3 separate regions of the Homo sapiens genome follow, and all the other regions are linked to region 3. Evidence: fine-mapped expression QTL. A gene starts in region 3. Each other region holds a variant in brackets. All regions are shown on one strand. Distances are between the middles of the regions.

The links. PIP is the estimated chance that this variant, and not a neighbour inherited with it, causes the effect.
Region 1: its variant is the best candidate, but not a certain one, in a credible set for the expression of FLT4 in skeletal muscle (GTEx, PIP 0.51).
Region 2: its variant is the best candidate, but not a certain one, in a credible set for the expression of FLT4 in caudate (GTEx, PIP 0.51).

The regions. Positions count from the first base shown.
Region 1 is chr5:180,618,090-180,620,840 of GRCh38, forward strand. FLT4 (fms related receptor tyrosine kinase 4) reads right to left here. Exons shown (of 30, transcript NM_182925.5): 16 at 2,520-2,626; 17 at 2,084-2,219; 18 at 1,576-1,680; 19 at 1,164-1,277; 20 at 932-1,020; 21 at 681-831. Among named protein-coding and RNA genes, the nearest start is that of SCGB3A1, 28 kb to the left of the region's middle. RefSeq lists an enhancer at 1,742-2,751. The variant CAG/C (reference allele first, on the strand shown) is at 1,403.
Region 2 is chr5:180,612,151-180,614,901 of GRCh38, forward strand. FLT4 (fms related receptor tyrosine kinase 4) reads right to left here. Exons shown (of 30, transcript NM_182925.5): 24 at 1,918-2,029; 25 at 861-960; 26 at 356-461. Among named protein-coding and RNA genes, the nearest start is that of SCGB3A1, 22 kb to the left of the region's middle. The variant C/T (reference allele first, on the strand shown) is at 1,486.
Region 3 is chr5:180,648,301-180,651,051 of GRCh38, forward strand. FLT4 (fms related receptor tyrosine kinase 4) reads right to left here and starts at 1,300. Exons shown (of 30, transcript NM_182925.5): 1 at 1,188-1,300. The coding sequence starts at 1,245.

The sequences.
Region 1 (2,751 bases), 30 kb before region 3:
CTCTCCTGCCCCTCAGCCTCTGGGACACCCACATCCTATTCCAGAGCACCCTCTCCTGCCCCTCAGCCTCTGGGACACCCACATCCTATTCCAGAGCACCCTCTCCTGCCCCTCAGCCTCTGGGACACCCACGTCCTACTCCCAGAGCACCCTCTCCTGCCCCTCAGCCTCTGGGACACCCACGTCCTACTCCAGAGCACCCTCTCCTGCCCCTCAGCCTCTGGGACACCCACGTCCTACTCCCAGAGCACCCTCTCCTGCCCCTCAGCCTCTGGGACACCCACATCCTACTCCAGAGCACCCTCTCCTGCTCCTCAGCCTCTGGGACACCCACGTCCTACTCCAGAGGACCCTCTCCTGCCCCTCAGCCTCTGGGACACCCACGTCCTACTCCCAGAGCAGTAAATACTGTTGCTCTGTGGGGGCCGGGCACCTGCTGCTTGGCCCTCCACTGCCTGCCTTGTCTGCAGGGCAATTTCCTATTCAGCCTCTGATGACCCAGTCAATCGTAAAACATCTGTGTGAAAATTGTCCCCGAGGTGTCTTCCCTTCCTAAGGCAGAGCCCATTCCACACTCTCCCATGAAAGCCCCCGCTGAGGACCCCAGGCTGGGGTGCCTGATCACGGGATATAACCGGGCCCGTCAGGCACTAGGAAAAGGGAAGAGGCCAGGCTCTCACCTTCTTGGTCTGGAGAAGCCCGCCTCGCTCCGCCCTCGGTCTTCGAGAACCGCGCGAAGAGGACCCTGTCGCTGCTCCCCGGCCGCCTCCGATCCAGCCTGGCGAGCTCCACCATGGCGCGGAAGCGTCCGCGCTGCTCGGGAGACTTCTCCTGCGGATGCACGAAGCTGGCTCGAGGGCGCCCAGTCGTCCGCCGCAGAGGCGCCTCCATTCCCCCGCCGCCCGCGGCGCCCCGCAGGCCGCCCGCTCACCGCGCAGGGGCTGAAGGCGTCCCGCTTGGCGCGCAGGAAGTTGGAGAGGTTGCCGTACTTGCAGAACTCCACGATCACCATGAGGGGGCCTGCGGCGGGACCGGGCGGCGGCCGTGCGTTCGGAACCCGGGGCGCGCTGCGGGCGCGCTCCGCGTTTGCACCCGCGCCCCCTCCCGCCCGCGGCGCCCCGCGCCCGGGGTCTCGCCGTCCCAGCGGGCCGCCCGCTCCGTACCCTGCGGCTTGGTGCACGCCCCGAGGAGGTTGACCACGTTGAGGTGGTTGCCGATGTGAATGAGGATCTTGAGCTCCGACATCAGCGCGCGGTGCTCGCTGGCCGTGGCGCCCTCTGGAGGGGACACGGGCCTCACACCGGCCCCGACCCTGGCAGGTCCCCGTTCCCCGCCACCCGGCGCTTTTGGGAGGGGGAGGGTTACTAAGGGCCCCCAGGACATCCTGCCGGCCCCACTGAGG[CAG/C]AGGGGGTTCGGGTGGTCCCTCGGCTCTGAAGCCCGCAGCCTCCCTGTAGAATCTCGGATGAGACTGGCTTCCAGCCTCAGTCTCCCTTCCCGAGTTGCCGTCCCACCGGCCCACCCCGAGCTGCTGCTCCTCACCAGCTAGGCTGCCCCTTCCGCCCGCTGACCCCACACCTTTCAGCATTTTCACGGCCACGGTGTCACAGCTGCTGCCCTTGTGGATGCCGAAAGCGGAGGCTTCCACCACCTTCCCGAAGGCGCCGTAGCCGAGCACTCTCCCTGTCGGGGCAGGGGGCCAGTTGCAGGTGAGCTGTACGGGGTGAGCGTGGAGACAGGTGGGCGGCGGGGGAGCCCCGTGCAGAGGTCCAGGAGGACAGGCCTGGCAGCAGGAGGAGCGTGGGGAGCCACAGCGGGAAGACAAGGAGAGGTGGACAGGAGGCCGCGCATCCTCCCGGGTAGGTGTGACAGATACACCCTGCTCAGGGTGGCAGCAGGTGACCTCAGGGAGCCTGGGAACTGGGGACCCTGGCTGAGGTTCTAGGTACCCACGCCCACAGGGACAGGTCAGGCCAGGCGGAACTTCCTGGTGCAAGTTTTGAAAATGGAGGGATTCAGGCACTCCGGCCTGCAGCAGGTGGGTCGGGCAGGAGGTGTGGGTTGGGCAGGCTGGTGCTGGCCTCACCCAGGTGCAGCCGCTCTCGGGGGAATTCCCACTGGCTGGCATCGTAGGACAGGTATTCGCATTGCTCCTCCAGAGGCACCTCCCCGGGGTCCATGATGATGGACAGGTAGCCCGTCTTGATGTCTGCGTGGGCCGGCTGCGGGGAGGGGACAGGGAGGAGTGGGGCAGCTCACTGATTTGGCCATACCACTGTGGCTTGGGCAGAACTTTGCCCAGGACAGATGGCACTTCCTGCGGGGTTCTCAGTCAAGGAGGGGACAGAAAAAAAGACAGACAACCTCTGCGGGGTTGGAGCCCAGCGTGAAGGGCAGGGAGGCTTCCCAGGAAACAAGGCTGCCAGGTGAACTAGGGCGGGCACCTTATTCTTTATCTTAGGGGCGGCCAGGGTGGGGAAGGCCTGAGAGAGACTCCATCAGGAGCGGGGAGGGACACTCACCCTCCTCATGTTACAGAAGATGAGGAGGAGGAGGACCCAGAAGAAGACAGCGATGACGCCGGTACCGACAAGGATCACGATCTCCATGCTGCCCTTATCCTCGGAGCCTGCGTGGGCAGAAAGGGGCCGGCGTGTGTGTGTGTGTGTGTAAGAGCGTGCACCTGCAGGCAGCACCCCTTCTGGTGGCCACGACTTGCCCAAGGTGGCCACAAGAAAGCGTTAACTGGGGACG
Region 2 (2,751 bases), 36 kb before region 3:
GGAGTGGGGGACAGAACTGGCACCAGGTGAAGGAATACATCATGACGATGCCAGGGAGATGGGGCTGCCTCACAGGCCGGGGGGGACCAGCCTAGGATTCCCCTCGCGCAGGGACAGGCTCTGACTATCCACACAGCACCTGGAGCAGGCAGTGGAGCTGTGCAGCGGGTGTGTACTCAACAGAAAGATGCAAGGGTGTGGGGACGAGGTGTGGATAGGGGCCCAGGACCCCACCACCCTAGCCTAGCAGCTGAGAGGTGGGCAGAGCCTAGATGGGCTTGGAGGGGCAGCTCGGGCCAGGGACCCAGGGCAGGGGCCAAAGGCCATAGTAGAACAGGGTGGGGAAGGGGCTCACTTGCAGGCCCCTGCCCTGGAGCAGGTCCCCCAGGATCTCCACCAGCTCCGAGAATGCAGGTCTCGCCTTGGGGTCTCCGGACCAGCAGTTCAGCATGATGCGGCGTCTGCAGGATCACGTGGGCTGCTGGACTGCATGCACCCCACCCCCGTCCCAGGACCTTCAGTGCCCCAGCCTTCCTGGGCCCTCTCACCCACTCTGCCCTCCTCCTGACACGTCTCCCACTCTTGTCCAGCTACCCTCGTTCCTCCTTCAAGTGTTAGCCCAGCGTCCCCTCCTGGTGATGCTTTCCCTGAACACTCGGCTCTGTTCCGACAGCGCCCGGCCTTCCCTCCTGGTGTCCTCCTGGTGCAGCTGTGCTACAGACTACCCGTGTATCTTGAGGGTGGTGCCCAGGCCTGTCCTACTGGCCCTGGCTTCCCTGATGCCACCTTCTCATGGACACAACCCCCACGCCCCCGACGCTTGCTGTCCCCAAAACCTGCAGGGCCATGGGGAGGCTCACATGGCGGGAGTGGCCAGCTCCGGGGCCCTCATCCTTGTGCCGTCTCTCAGCCGCTGGCAGAACTCCTCATTGATCTGCACCCCAGGGTACGGGGAGGCCCCTGACAACAGGAAGGGGAGGTGGGTGGGGAGCAAGCCTCCTGCGGCTCAGCCCAGCCCCCCAAGTCACCCCATCCTGTCCCTTCCCCATCAAGTCACCCCGTCCTGTCCCTTTCCCCATCCGTGGTGGGGTGGAGATGGCTCACCCGACTGTGCTCTACCTGGGACCTGTGGGCAAGTCGCTGCCCTCCCCAGCTCTAGTTCATTTGGTTAAAAGAGGACTGTGCCGCCTGCTTGCTAGGGGTGCCAAGAGCATCCACCCACTGGCGACACGGTAGACATCATGGTTACTGGATCATCAGCGGCGGGGGAGCCGCCTGCAGGCAGTTTCAACAAAGCCTCTCTTGCTTCTCGCTGCTTCTCCTGCTGCTCCCCCCAACCCCTGCTGCTCCCCCCAACCCCTGCTGCTCCTCCCAACCCCTGCTGCTCCCCGTCCTGGACTGCTGAACTCCCTCCTTGGGCCCCTCTGGCTTACCCGAGCTCCCACGCCTCCTACACTCTTCCTGCTCCTTTAGTTTCCGCAGTAG[C/T]GTGGATCAGTTGCCACTTGGTGACATTTTAACTTTTTCAAGTTCACTGCCCTACCCTGGCCTGGAGACTTCATCATGCTCGCAGCGGGGCCTGAGTTCCCACATGGAGCTCTTGGAGCTCTTGGAGTAGGCACGTCTGCTGACTGGGCACTGAGCTCCCTCTGGGGCTGCCATGTGAAAAGGCTCAGTCCTGGCTCAGGCTTCAATGTGCACCCCACAGAGGGTGGCCCACGTTGGAGGCAAAGTCCTCTCGGAGGCTGGGCCAGGCTGGGGAGAGGTGGGGGGCCCTTGGTGGCCCACAAACCACCTGCTTCAGAACGACCTGGCACACACCTCCAGGTGCCCAGTCCCTTACTCCAGCAGGGGCGGTCATGTAACCTGCCGCCAGTGACCTCGCCTCCTCTCCCCACCGGCACCCCATCCTGCACTCACCCAGAGAGAAGATCTCCCAGAGAAGCACCCCAAAGGACCACACGTCACTCTGCGTGGTGTACACCTTGTCGAAGATGCTTTCAGGGGCCATCCACTTCAGGGGCAGCCGGGCCTGGGGAGACAGAGGGAAGCTTGTCCCGTGGTGGATGGGGAGACGGAGGGAAGCGTGTCCCGTGGTGGATGGGGAGACGGAGGGAAGCGTGTCCTGCGGTGGATGGGGAGACGGAGGGAAGCGTGTCCCGTGGTGGATGGGAAGAGAGGGCTGAGGCCAGATGCTCTGGCACCCCCTAACAGGGTCCTCTGCCTGGGTTGAAGGTATCTCCCTGCTGCTGTTCTCCTGGGTCTGTCTGGGCCCCTCTCCCTCCCAGCTCTCAGGGGAGGGGTATCGGGGTAGACTGTACACCTTCCTCCAGCCCTAGACCTCCAGCGCAGCCTCCTGATGAAACGCACCCCTGCACACTCTCACCATCTCCCCTGACAAGCACGCTCTGTCCACTCACTGTCCCCACCCTGGAAGCCGGGCCATCACTCCTGACACCCTCCTCCTGGGCTCCTGAGGCATCTCCGCCGCCGGCTGTCTCTCTCCCTCTCATGGTCTCTACCTGGGAGCCCTGAGGGCCAGGGCCCTTCTGGACTGGCCTCTACCTCCACCCCAGCACCCCCACTCCCCTCTCTTCCCAGCTTACGGCATAAGGGAGGTTTTTGTAACTGCAGACAACCTGACACTTCCCTCCAACCAGCGGCCATGCTGGGCTGGATGGCTCATCAAGACCAGGCCCTGGGCCCATCCTGCTCCTCCCCCTCTGACACCCTTTCTCCCCCAGGCGCGGAACC
Region 3 (2,751 bases):
CTGCCCTTCAGCCAGTGGACATACAGGTGGTGAGCAAAGGCAGGCTTTGTCAGGCTTACTTTGGGCCTCCTGGGGACCTTGGGGAAGTGACACATGTCCTTGGTCTAAGCTTCTCCATGTGTAAAATGGGTCTGACACTCCCTGTGAGAATTACAAGCATGTAAAGCCAGTATTTAATTCCTATGGCGTGCAGAAATGTTGAGGTCCCCGTCGCTGACTTCAGGGCTTCAGACACTGGAACCCCTGACCCCGCCCTTACACCCTTTGATTTCCAGGGACACCAGCTCCGTGGGGACTCCCAGCTCATCTTCTCAGCTTCCTCCCTGACATCTCCATCCACTCCCTCTGCCGCCCGCTCATCCCCCACAGTCCCTCTTTCCAACCCCTCCGCCTCCGCTTCAGGTCTGCGTCTCTCCCCGCCAGAGCCACATCCCAACACAAACCGAACCCCGCCTCTCCTGTGCAGGGGACCCTCCCGCGGGGGCCTCTGCTCCTCAGCTGGCCTTCGAGGCCCCTGTCCCCTCAAATCCGGGGACCCCTGGCCTTCCGCCCCTTCTGCGGCGCTGACAGCCCGCGATTCGCCTCCTCAAGATTCGTCTCAAGTGCCAGCGTGCACCTGCACCCGTCCGCCTCGGGCGCGCGGTGGTCCCCGGCCCCTGTCCCCGCCGTCGCCGGCCACGGGGAGGGGGAAGCCCGCCTCGAGCGCCCTCTGGGGGACCGACCGCGAGCGGAGGCGCTGGGCGTCGGGAAGTGCGCACCCAAGTCCGGGGCCCGGCCGGGATGGATCTCCGGCGCGCGTGGGTCGGGACGGCGCGGCGCGGGGACCCCGCGGGGAAGCGAGTAAGGGCGCGAAGGATCCGGGCTCAGCGCGCAGCCCGGCAGGGCCCGGCTCCGAGGACGCGGAGCCACCGACGGAGACGCGGATTCAGGGGCCGGGAGAGCTACCCCTGCGCCGAGGCGCGGCCCGGCCGCCCTGGCCCTGACCCGGCTGCGGTCCCCGCCCGCCCCTTCCTCATCCCGAGGTCCCGCGCCCCAAGCGCCGTGCTCCCCTCAGGCGTCCGCGCACCAGGGCCACCGTGTCCCCCGCCCGTACCCGGCGGAGCGGTCTCAGCGCCCGCCCCAGGTGCGCGGTACCCCCTCCCCGGCCAGCCCCACGCTCGGGCGGGTGGCCCGTTCGCCGCGCTCACCGTCCAGGAGTCCCAGGCAGAGCCACAGTCGCAGGCACAGCGCGGCGCCCCGCTGCATCTCCGGCCGCTGCGCGTGGGTCCGACCCGAGCGGCCGCGGCTCGGGGCTGAAAGTGTCCGCGCGGGCGCCGGCTGGCCTGGGGCGGGGCGGGGCGGGGCGGGGGCCGGAGGCGGGCCCGGGATTCAGGCCGCTCCCCGCGCCCCCCTCCCCCCGTCCCTCCCAGCCCGCCGCGGGGCGTCCGGTGCACCCGAGCAGTGCGCGCTCCGCACCACAGGGTCCGGGCCCCCTCCTGGGCGGCTCCGGGCGCGGGGACGCGGGTAACGCAGACGGTCTCGCGATGCGCTCCGGAGGTGATGGAGCCTGGTGGGCAAAGGGGAGCAAAATGCGGCACGCGCTCTTTTCCGTCCTTTCTTTCCATCGGTAAAATCTAGACTAAACAAGAAAGCAATCCTTGTAAAAATAGTATGTTACATCTTTGAAAATAGTGGCACCAGCCGGCGTAACATAGGGAGACCCAGTCTCAAAAATAAACAAGCAAATAAATAAAATAATACGCCGAGCTTGGTTGTGCGCGCCTGTAATCCCAGCTTCTCGGGGGGGCTGAGGCAGGAGAATCGCTTGAACCCGGGAGAAGGAGGTTGCAGTGAGCCGAGATCGCGCCACTGCACTCCAGTCTGGGAGCCAAAAAAAAAAAAAAAAAAGCAAAAACAAAACCCGTTCAGCAGTGTTTACCTGCACAGTGTCGACGGACAGTGTCGACGGAAGCCGCACCCGTGAGCGGGACACCCGGGATGACCGACCCCCTCCCTGCAGGCCTGGCCTCCTAGCTTTAGAACTCCCCCAGATGTTTTGTTCTCAGCTCAATCAGGACCCGCCCCCACCTTTTTAATAAAGCGACACTTTGCTTTTGCTTTCTGACTTGGCAACCCTCTTACAGACTTCCGTTCTCTTTTCAGTTTGTCTCTAGAATTTTCCTGTTTAATAATGAAGCCCATGACCATGACTGTCTCAACCTCCTTCCCTGCTTTTCGTTTCATTCACATTTTCCATCCCCCCACCCCCGCCCCCCAAAGCCCTTTCATCCTCGCCAAAAAGCAAGAGTAGATTTTCAATAACCACTACCAGCTCTCTCCAATCCAGGTAAGAAGTGGCTATATTATTAAGCTGGAATCACAAATCAGTGCGGATAGTGTAGATAATTTAACAAATAAGGTTGGGGAAACTAGGTAACCAAGCGATACATGAAGTTAGGTATTTATCAATCATATATTGATTTTTTTTAGCTTTGAAAGATTATGAGATGTAACACACTTATGGAAAGTACATAATATATCAGCATATTATAAACCTGAATTTTAAAGCAACAAATACCTGTGTTTCCATTCTCCAGGCCAAGGGATGTAGAATGACATCCCCACATCCCCTCACTTCCCATCACAAACCCCTCACCAACCCCAGAAGATGCCCACTACCCTGGCATTATCATTTCCCTGCTTTTGTTTATCATTTTATCATCAAAATATATGTTTTGCTTTTTTTTTCAGAATGTACTTTTTTTTTTTTTT